Linked DNA regions of Homo sapiens. The protein of the gene in region 2 purifies or fractionates together with the protein of the main gene of each other region. This does not show direct contact. Each region holds a gene or a part of one and is shown on either strand. Other genes may lie near its edges. The genes, in order: PRPSAP1, ASB9 and ME1.

Region 1 (3,654 bases), on a different chromosome or scaffold from region 2:
AATCCAGAGGCTGTCACTCGTGGCCTTTGAAAGCCCACTGGCTCTCATGTTAACCCCTCCATCGTTGTCATGTCCCATGCCACACACAGCTTTATCTCCAGCCTCCAGACAGCACACATGATCGCTGAGTTGCTCAGCTTTCCTCTGGGAAAACAAAGTTCCTTCAAGTTCTCAGAGAAAGGAAAGCAATGAGGCTATGAGCATTTTTCAAGCAATGGTTTTTTTTTTTGTTTTTTTTTTGAAATGGAGTTTCATTCTGTCACCTAGGCTGGAGTGCAATGGCGCGATCTCGGCTCACTGCAACCTCCGCCTCCTGGGTTCAAGCAGCTCTCCTGCCTCAGCCTCCCCAGTAGCTGGGATTACAGGCGCCTGTCACCACTCCTGGCTAGTTTTTTGTATTTTTAGTAGAGATGGGGTTTCACCATGTTCATCAGACTAGTCTTGAACTCCTGACCTCAAGTGATCTGTCTGCCTTGGTCTCCCAAAGTGCTGGGTTTACAGGCGTAAGCCACTGTGCCCGGCCCAGGCAATGGTTTTTAACGTTGTTCTTTCTTCTGAAGATGACTATCAGAATATTGGACAAAGGATAGAATCAAAATTATCTAGAATCAGGGCCAGGCGGGGTGGCTCACGCCTGTAATTCCAGCACTTTGGGAGGCCAAAGCGGGAGATCGCTTGAGCCCAGGGGTTCAAGACCAGCCTGGGCAACATAGACCCCGTCTCTACAAAATACAAAAAATAGCCAGTTGTGGCAACACATGCCTGTGGTCCCCGCTACTCGGGAGGTTGAGGTGGGAGGATCACCTGAGCCTCAGGAGGTTGAGGCTGCAGTGAGCCATGTTGACGCCACTGCACTCCAGCCTGGGTGACAGTGAGACCTTGTCTCAAAAAAAAAAAAAAATGTCTAGAATCAGATACAATCCCAAACCCTAACTCACGTGCCCTTTGAGTCATTTACATGCTGGCCTGGGCCTCACATTCTCATTTATATAAATAATGCCTTTGTATGTCCCTGAAACGTTAAATATTTTCATTTTATGGTTAAAAAATGATGCCGTAGTGATGCGTGGGATTTCTTCCTGTCAGTTTCACCATTTCCCTTTGTCCTTCTAGGGCCCAGTCCTATGCGGAGAGACTGCGTCTGGGTTTGGCCGTCATTCACGGGGAAGCTCAGTGCACGGAACTGGACATGGACGATGGTCGTCACTCCCCGCCTATGGTCAAAAATGCTACTGTGCACCCAGGCCTGGAGTTGCCATGTAAGATGAGCTCTGTGTTTTTATTTTATTTGTAAATTGAAGAAAGTTTTTTTTTGTTGGTTTTGTTGGTTTTGTTGTTGTTGTTTTGTTTTGTTTTGTTTTGTTTTTGAGATGGAGTCTCACTCTGTCACCCAGGCTAGAGTGCAGTGGCGTGATCTTGGCTGACTGCAACCTCTGCCTCCTGGGTTCAAGCAATTCTCCTGCCTCAGCCTCGTGAGTGGCAAAGATTACAGGTGTGTGCCACCACGCCCAGCTAATTTTTGTATTTTTAGTAGAGACAGGGTTTCACCATGTTGGCCAGGCTGGTCTCAAACTCCAGACCTCGTGATCTGCTCCAGACCTGGTGATCTGCTCGCCTCAGCCTCCCAGAGTGCTGGGATTACAGGCATGAGCCACTGCACCTGGCCCTGAAGAAAGTTTTAAGTAGTATGAATGGCTAGGAGTTATCGACTATGTAGATATATGCTGTCTTGTTGTTTTTTAATAATGGAATGGTATTTGCTATCCTCCGCCTTTTTTTTTTTTTTTTTGAGAAAGGATCTCCCCCTGTTGCTCTGTACAGTGGCACAGTCATGGCTCACTGCAGCCTTGACCGGGGCGCAAGTGATTCTCCCACCTCCGCCTCCTGGGTAGCTGGGACTGTAGGGGTACACTACCATGCCTGGATAGTTTTCTGTTCCTTTTTTTTTCTTTTTGTATGGAGACGGGGCTCCCTGCATTGCCCAGGCTGGTTTTGAACTTCTTTGCTCAAACAATCCTCCTGTCATGGTCTCCCAAAATGCCGAGATTACATAAGATTACAGACATGAGCCCCATGCCAGGCCCGATTTCCTCTTTTGTAAAAGGAAGTTGTGTTATACACATTTGTAGACTGTGTATGGACGGTTCTGCGTAGCACTCAGCATTCAGACGGTGTTTGATAATTTTAGCTTCAGTAAAAAAGTTGTATGTGTGATGGTGTGAAATCTTAAGCTTTTACATTATCATAAGCTGGGTGACAGCTGTTGATCAAATACCAGGCTTTGGGGATCAGGTAACTTTTATTTTTACTTATTTATTTATTTTGAGATGGAGTCTCACTCTGTCGCCAGGCTGGAGTGCAGTGGTGCAATCTTGGCTCACTGCAACCTCTTCCTCCCGGGTTCAAGCAATTCTCCTGCCTCAGCCTCTCCAGTGGCTGGGGCTATAGGTGCGCGCCAACACGCCGAGCTAATTTTTGTATTTTTAGTAGAGATGAGCTTTCACCATGTTGGCCAGGATGGTCTCGATCTCTTGACATTGTGATCCGCCTGCCTCAGCCTCCCAAAGTGCTGGGATTACAGGTGTGAGCCACCGTGCCCGGCCTATTTTTATTTATTTTTATTTTGTTTGAGACTGAACTCGTTCTGTCGCCCAGGCTGGAGTGCAGTGGCATGATCTTGGCTCACTGCAGCCTCCGCCTCTTGGGTTCAAGCAGTTCTCCTGTCTCAGCCTCCCAAGTAGCTGTGACTTCAGGCACACACCACCACACCCAGCTAATTTTTGTATTTTTAGTAGAGACAGGGTTTTACCATGTTGGTCAGGCTGGTCTCGAGCTGCTAACCTTAGGTCATCCGCCTGCCTCGACCTCCCAGTGTGCTGGGATTACAGGTGTGAGCCACCGTGCCAAGCCGTAATCTGCATTTTTAGCTTTTTATTTTCAACTGACTTTAGACTTAAAGTTGAAAGAATAGTACAGATTTCCAGCATATGCTCTTCACTCGGAGTCCCCAAATTTAACATTTATATACATGGGGTTTTTTTTTTTCCACCATTTGAGGGTGAGTTGCAGACGTAATGTCCCTTCATTCCTAAATACCTTCGTGTATATTTGTAAAGACAAAAGACTCTTATATAACCAGAGTATCATTATCAGACTCAGGAAGCTAACATTGCTGTAACACTGTAATCTACAGACCTTACTCAGGTTTCACCAGTGGTCCCAGCAGTGTCCTTTAGAGCAAAAGAATAAACTTGTTTTCTTGTTCAAGACCTAACCCAGGGTCACACATTGCATTTAGTTGTCATTTCTTTTTAGTCTCATTTAATCTGGAGTGGCTGCTTTATTCTTTGTTTCTTATGACCTTGATACTTTTGAACAGTGCGATCAAGTGATTTTGTAGACTCTCCCTTAATTGGGGCTTGTTTGTGTCCTCAGGATTAGATTCAGGTTATGCATTTTTGGCAGAAAATCACAGGAAACACATGATGTGTCCCATTACTGGTGATGTGCATTCTGATAAGTTGGTTAAGGTTTCTCTGGCAGGTTTCTCCACTGTAAAGTTACTCTTTTTTTTTTCCTCTTTGTAATTAATACTACCTCATGTTAAGACTATGTTTTAACTGTAAATATTCTGCTTCTCATCAAAATGAACAT
Region 2 (3,654 bases):
ATTTTCATTTTACCAGAGGGATGGCAGCTCAGGCAAAGCCACATGTTCCCACATGTCACAGTGAAAGCTAGGCTCTGGGCTGGGGTGGGGATTTGTTAAGAGTGTAAGAGTGGAATTGGGTGGGGACAGTCCTAGAAATCCACCTTACTCCTGAAAGGGAGAACTTTGCCACCTTCCCTGTGATCTTGGGATTGGCCAGTCCAATCCAGGGGATACCCCCATGAGTTGGTTGGTTGCTTTTCAAAGTCCAAATCACCAGTCCCAAGTGTCCAGTTTTACACCCTGTGGCAGCTGCACACCAGGTGAGTTTGGCTGCTTGGTGTAGGCTGGATTTCACCATCTAGTCTCTCCGTCAGGCTGTACTGGCTAATACTTAGGTTCCATTAATAATAATGTGGAGCTTTTATGTCACTAGGATTTTTCTTATATGCATCATGCCTATCTATGTACAGTGCTGAAAGGCAAATTTTTAACTTTCTATGCTATATTCCTCATGCTGTACATTCAATAACATTATCAGGTGGGATTTTCCCCACATTATTAAATGGAATCACATCATCTCCCATTTTTCCAGGATTGCTGTGCTCAATATGGATCCCCTCTTGTTAGGAAATTTTGGGGCTCGGGGCTTTGAAAAGCCCCGATGGTTGGATTCTGCTCCTTGCTGACTCTTTTTTGTTCTCGTGACTGTTTAGGAGCGGACGTGAACCAAGGGAAAGGTCAGGATTCCCCACTTCATGCAGTGGCCAGGACAGCCAGTGAAGAGCTGGCCTGCCTGCTCATGGATTTTGGAGCGGACACCCAGGCCAAGAATGCTGAAGGCAAACGTCCTGTGGAGCTGGTGCCTCCAGAGAGCCCCTTGGCCCAGCTCTTCTTGGAGAGAGAAGGTGCTTCTTTGCCAAAACCTAAGCCCTAATCTGTTGACATCCCTTGGGGCTCTAGTAGAAGGCAGGTATTTGGCAATTTCTGGCTCCCATTCCTATAAAAAGATCATTCTCTGACATCACCAAATCTGGGAAGTTGAGATAATTCAATATTCAATGAGATACAGTACTGGTCACAGTACAGTAAATAACTGTCCTGCTATTTAGCATATTGGATACAGGTTTTTGGGATGATCTAATATTCATTATGGGGTAGGCCAGTTTTTTAAAAATTAAGATACTGTTTTAAAATTTTAGTATTACATTTATTTAAAACATGCTTTAGAATGAGGCAGCAGAGTCCTCTTTGGGGTTGTAAGAGGCCGCAGGATATCTTGTTGAACCACAGATGGGCCAGACTACTGGACACTTCGTTTCTGGGCTTAAAATGCAGCTGTTTAAGAGTTTAGGGTTCACACCAATCCAAAGATATTTACTATTATAAATTAACCAATGATAAGTCCACACTTCTCTATAAGTAAGAACTGAGACTCCCAACTCGAACAATGAAATATTGTGGTTGAGCAGTGTGTATGGAAGTAGGGCTTTGAGGCCTGGGCTGGGCTGGGGAACAAAGACACCTCAAGTTGGGGAGCCACCTCTTGCAATCTTCATGGGCTCAGAGGCAGTTGAGAAACCAGCTCAGTACTTCTTTTCTTACCGGAGTATGGACTCTGAAGTCTTAGGGATTCTGGGACTTTGAAGCAGGCCTTCCTACCAGAAGGATTCTGATGTTATACAATCTAGTTATTTTCTCCCCACATGATGAGCAGTAAGGTTGGCTTTGGGCAGAACTGTAAAGTGGGCTAAGGAATCCTTCTTCCTCCTACTCTCACTGCCCCAGGGTACTTGCAGTCAAGTCCCTGCCTGGGGGCATGCCAAACAAGGCCTATGCTCCTGAGCAGTGCTGGTCAGGCAGAAAAGATTGACTCCAGGCCTGGACAAGGAACAGTCCAGTAGAGGCCCCTTACAGTTAAGCAGTGGGATAATCATGGAGCAGTTCTATCTGCATTTTAATAATTACTTGTTTTGAAAAAGTTCTATGTCTACGAGGCCCATAAAAATATCTTAATTTTTAAACAATCAGAATAAAAAATGAATAGAACAACATGGATTGTAATCATCTTTATACCAACACAGTTGTGAAATAGAATTTTTAATTGTTTTCACTGAGAAAGGGATTCATAAAGGCAAAAGTGCCTCAGGTCCCCCTCAGTCATAACGTAGGGCATACGTTAATGTAGGATGTATATGTCCCCTCCTCCATCAAACAACCTCATAGCATTCTCAAATTGCCTCCCCTGGCTTTTCCCTTCTGCTTTATTTCCCAAAGCCATTCCTAGAGACAGTAATTACTTTAATTTTGAATTTACGTTTTGCACGGTGACAGTGTGGCCTATGGTCCCACTAGTTTATGAGGTGTCATTTGCTGCTGGAGAGAATCACTACTTGTTTTGCCTCCATGAGTCAATTTTGGGGTTTTGGTGTAGTCACCTCTCAGAGGGCTCGGAGCCCACAAGAAATGGGGTCAGGAAAGTGCAGAAAACTAGACCTGTGGATTGCTCACAGCAGTTTCTGTCTCTGGGTGCCCCTACATTCATTTGCTTCAGTCCACCTGTTTCTCCGTTTCCTGGGGAAGGGAATTTATTCAATTACTGTCCTCTTTCAATGGTATGGCAACAGGAGAATGTTGGTAAAACCCAACCATGTTCTGAATTGGGCTTTGCGTGGGTGTTAGGAAAGGTAAGATTTTCCCGTTTTCTGAGAAAAGGGAAAAGATTTTAAGAATATTGCCACCTCACCCTTGATAAGCATCTAAAGCAGTGTTTGCTCAATTAAAACCTAGAAATGACTGTCAGCCCAACATGACCGCAGCCCCCATCCCCCCTCACCCAGTGCACTTTGGCTTTAAAACATCAATGGTTGTTGCTGGCCGGGCACGGTGGCTCACGCCTGTAATCTCCACACTTTGGGAGGCCAAGGTGGGTGGATCATGAGTTCAGGAGATAGAGACCATCCTGGCTAACACGGTGAAACCCCGTCTCTTCTAAAAATACAAAAAAAATTAGCCGGGCGTGGTGGCAGGCACCTGTAGTCCCAGGTACTCGGGAGGCTGAGGCAGGAGAATGGTGTGAACCTGGGAAGTGGAGCTTGCAGTGAGCTGAGATCACACCACTGCACTCCAGCCTGGGCGACAGAGTGAGACTCAGTCTCAAAAAACAAAAAACAAAACATCAATGGTTGTTGCTGGGGGAAAAAAGAAATCAAGGCCCAAAGGAATATGCCAATTCATAAATACACAATTAGCTGGTTTTATTACCGAGCAAAGCAAACCCCTTGAATATTTGCAGGTGCCAGCAAGTGACTGCAAATCTGTAGTGGGTTTTCAGCTCTGTGTCTATGGACTTGAAGCTACAGTTGTTTTACATTGTCTTACTTGTAGTAAACAGCAGCATTCAGTTGGCATCAGTAGTTATTAATACACTGAGTTTCCTGTGACATCCCACTTTTCTTAATTCTCTATCAGGCCTGCTCTGAGATCTTGTTATTTGTAATGCTTTATCAGTACCTCCTACGGTTGCCTCTGACAGCGTTTCTAGCACAGATGATCAGTCACATGTTTCAACATTCCTTAGTGAGGTTAGATTAGGTTCAGTTTCCCCACAGTGTGCTTTTTGCTGCTCGTTAATATGTGCCTTGAGAACACTGGGAAGCCGTTCATTTTTAAATG
Region 3 (3,654 bases), on a different chromosome or scaffold from region 2:
TGGCTGGGCGCGGTGGCTCACGCCTGTAATCCCAGCACTTTGGGAGGTCGAGGAGGGTGGATGACTTGAGGTCAGGAGTTGGAGACCAGCCTGGCCAACATGGTGAAAGCCCATCTCTACTAAAAATACAAAAATTAGCTGGGTGTGGTGGTGGGCACCTGTAATCCCAGCTACTCAGGAAGCTGAGGCAGGAGAACTGCTTGAAACTGGGAGGCGGAGGTTGCAGTGAGCCGAGATCGTGCCATTCATTGCACTCCAGCCTGGGTGACAGAGCGAGACTCCATCTCAAAAAAAAAAAAAAAAAAAAAAAAAGGCATTAACTAGGGCCTGTTAGGTGCTGCATTTCATATTGCTAATCAAAAGAACATTTGTCTGTGATGGTGAGAGTGGACATCTAGTTGAGAGTATTTAGGCTTCAAAGTAGGAATCAGAAACCCTAAACAAATAAAGCATCACAGTCTAAGAAATCTATTTGAAAAGTCTAAAGCATCAAATCCCCAAGGCATAGTTTAAACGATGACAGAATGGGTTTTAACTTTCATATCTCTTGGATCTAGAGTCTAAATAATGATATTAATATTAACCTATTTTTAGCAAATGTCATAATATACCTTTTAGTTGTTCTTAAAGTTGTATAACAGAAATTCAACCTTCTTTGAGAGACAAAAAGATGAAAATAGATGAGGCAGAAAAACAAATTCTCATCTAGCTGTTTATAAGACACTGTTATGTTTTGCACAGAATTCGGTTTTGTTTTCAGACAAGTCTGATACCTTAAGCTCTTTAGCAGATAAAACATTTTGTTATAAACAACTTTCTAATGTAACTAAATTATTACTTCATATATAAAGGTTTTGGAAAATTATATTTGAGAAAGAGGCCTGTAACATTATATATATATATATATATATATATATATCTCCCCCACTCCTGCACTCCCACTCTTCCTGCCTTTCTATAATCACCATATTTTAAGGAGAAATGTCATTAAATAAATGACAGTACTGTAGCTAGCTAAATATTCTCATATATATATGTTATTAACATGGTGAAGGGAACCTTCCCATACCATTTTTAGATTATATTTTTATGGTTCAATAGTCTTTCTGTATATTGTAACTTAACCTTTCCTATCTTCACCTGTGCCTACAGTAGCAGAAACTCACATCCAGCAACAGGCAGACCTTTCCTTTTTCTCCAATCCTTTAGCCAAACCAGTGTCTAAATTTTCATCCTCAAAATAACTTTCAATGTTTTATGTAGAAAAACATAGAACATTAGGCAAGATGATAAGAAAGAGTTGAGGCATACATTTATATCAGACACATTCAAAGTTTAAAATACAACTACATAAATTTGGCTAATTTTGTTTATGTGTGTTATAGATAAGTCTCTTAACCCTTGAGGCCTGTTGAGATATATTAAGACAAAATAATTAATTAAACACTTGTTTATTATATGCCTAGTAGGTGCAAGGCATGATGCTAAGACTTGGTTGTTGCTGAAAGGACTTTTTTTTCCTTTAAGGATTTAAGGACTACTGAATAATGTGAGGCAAATTCCCCAATCTAGAGATGAGATAAAAATTAAAATCAGTGAGAACACTGATGCCATCCCAAATAAGAGAGATAAACAATGGAGTGGCTCCTTGCCAAAAAGAAAAATCACTAATTCTAGTATTGAGCATTTAAGGATATATGATTAAAATAGAGCCATTAAGTTCCAGTTAATGCAGAGTGACATAGCGTTCATGTTTACCTCTCTAGTTCATTTTGGATTTCTTTCCAAAATAAACATTTTAGATAGATATGACTCAACCTCTATTTTGTTGTAATGATATTTTAAAGTCTTTGAAGGGAAAAAAGGCTCCTTTCAGCATATCAGCCAAATACATATTAGTACAAACATGGTATAAAATAAATCATAGTAAAATGTTGAAGCATTGAGGACTCCTATCCCAGTCTGGCTGGATGTCAAGATAGTTGCCCAAATGTTCCACCCATAGTACCAAAACCCAAACCCAGGATTTAGCAAAGCAAAAATAAGGTTGTGGTTTTACATTGTATGCTTCAGTGTTTGGGAATAGCTAGTTAAAAGCTATTTTAATAAGCCTCTAGAACCAAGCTGCTTCCTTTCTATTTAACTTTTATGTTTAAATCTTAGATATCTATTTCCAAATCACTTGTGGAAAATTATCAGTAAAACATTAAAATATGTATTTTATTTTGTTGAAGAAGAGGATTTATACAACATTCTAGAAAAGGAAATAGTTCTTATCCCTCTGATTTGTGTGCTTTTCTTTCCATTTTGGTTGTATAATTTTTAAACTTAAACAGTAAGCACCTTAGATATCCTAGGCCTCCCTATAATGAATAAAAATTTGATTATTAAAATATCTGTTATAGTTTTACTTTACCTTGGTTATTTTGTAGCACTGCTCTGCAGAACATTCTGCTTTGCTAGTTGGATTACTCAAAGCAAAAATAATAGGCCGTTCATTGAAGGCAGCCATATCTTTGAGAATTTGTTCTGAGAATGCACCACCAATTGCAGCAACTCCTAATGAAGAAATATGAAGCTGGTAATTAACACTATCATTGGTTAATTCACACAAGAAGACCATGCCTCAAATCAATGATATCTATCAGCTCATTTTCTAATAGACCCTAAACAAAATGCTATATAAACTATTTGTATTCAAGTATAGTGACAAAAAGAGGCAAGTTTGTTAATGCCAACAATCCTTACAATCCTTAGGGTCACAAATCTACAAATATCTATTAAAAACTAAAGATAATATTTGGCTTCCATAGTACATTGAGTTAGTTACCAATCACTTGGAAATTTGTATCTAATGTGTAAACTTTCTTTATAAGCAATTCTATGAGTATATTTCAGTCTTGTCAGGCTACAAAGCAATTAAGTTTTATAAACCAACGCTATCACTTAAGACAACCATCTGATTCATCTGCAAAAGTAAAGTACCACCCACTGAAGTAACTTTAACAGAAGAATAAAGCAATTAGCATAATGGAAATGAAAAACAATAAGATTATTGACAGAATATATTTTGTAAAAACAATATTAAACACTTAGTAAAGTTCCTGTCATGGAGTAAGTACTTCTTTTATTGTAGTTATCATCATTATTTTCAACGTTGTCATCTGTTTCACAAGAGCTTGTAGGAATGGAGTATAATACAAGGTAAAAATCAAAATTATATATGCACAAAATAAAGAATAAAGTTTCATAAATTCCTTTGAGTTTTCTAAAACCACTTTAAAGTCTTGCACTGCACATGCATTGTGTAAGTACTGTATTAAGTGCTATAAGGAAAATAAAGATTTGTGAGATGTGATCCCTGTCTTCCAGGAGGGTCTTATCTACTGCAGTATTTCTCAACCTCAGCACTATTGACATTTTAGGCTGGATAATTCCTTGTCGCAGGGGCTGTCCAGTGCACTACAGGATATTTAGTAGAATCATTCCGCTGCCTCTATCTGCTAGATGTCAGTAGCCCCTCCCTTTACTCCCTTCCAACCCCGCTACCCTAGTTAAGACAACTCAAAGCTTCCAGACATTGCCAAATGTTTCCTGCAGGGCAAAAATCCCTCTTATTTGAGAACCACTGTCTATCTGGAGTAATCAAGCCTA

Evidence for each region.
Region 1: the proteins of ASB9 (region 2) and PRPSAP1 purify together in Homo sapiens (affinity purification with mass spectrometry, with the first as the bait; one large-scale study listed by BioGRID). This does not show direct contact.
Region 3: the proteins of ASB9 (region 2) and ME1 purify together in Homo sapiens (co-immunoprecipitation; one large-scale study listed by IntAct). This does not show direct contact.

What each region holds. Positions count from the first base shown.
Region 1 is NC_000017.11:76,326,322-76,329,975, reverse strand, and holds part of PRPSAP1 (phosphoribosyl pyrophosphate synthase-associated protein 1), read left to right. Parts: intron 1-1,113; coding exon 1,114-1,259; intron 1,260-3,654. UniProt on the Homo sapiens protein: Seems to play a negative regulatory role in 5-phosphoribose 1-diphosphate synthesis.
Region 2 is NC_000023.11:15,245,977-15,249,630, reverse strand, and holds part of ASB9 (ankyrin repeat and SOCS box protein 9), read left to right. Parts: intron 1-695; coding exon 696-887; coding exon of another isoform or gene 888-916; exon of another isoform or gene 917-948; intron 949-3,654. UniProt on the Homo sapiens protein: Substrate-recognition component of a cullin-5-RING E3 ubiquitin-protein ligase complex (ECS complex, also named CRL5 complex), which mediates the ubiquitination and subsequent proteasomal degradation of target proteins.
Region 3 is NC_000006.12:83,224,919-83,228,572, forward strand, and holds part of ME1 (NADP-dependent malic enzyme), read right to left. Parts: intron 2,560-3,654; coding exon 2,417-2,559; intron 1-2,416. UniProt on the Homo sapiens protein: Catalyzes the oxidative decarboxylation of (S)-malate in the presence of NADP(+) and divalent metal ions, and decarboxylation of oxaloacetate.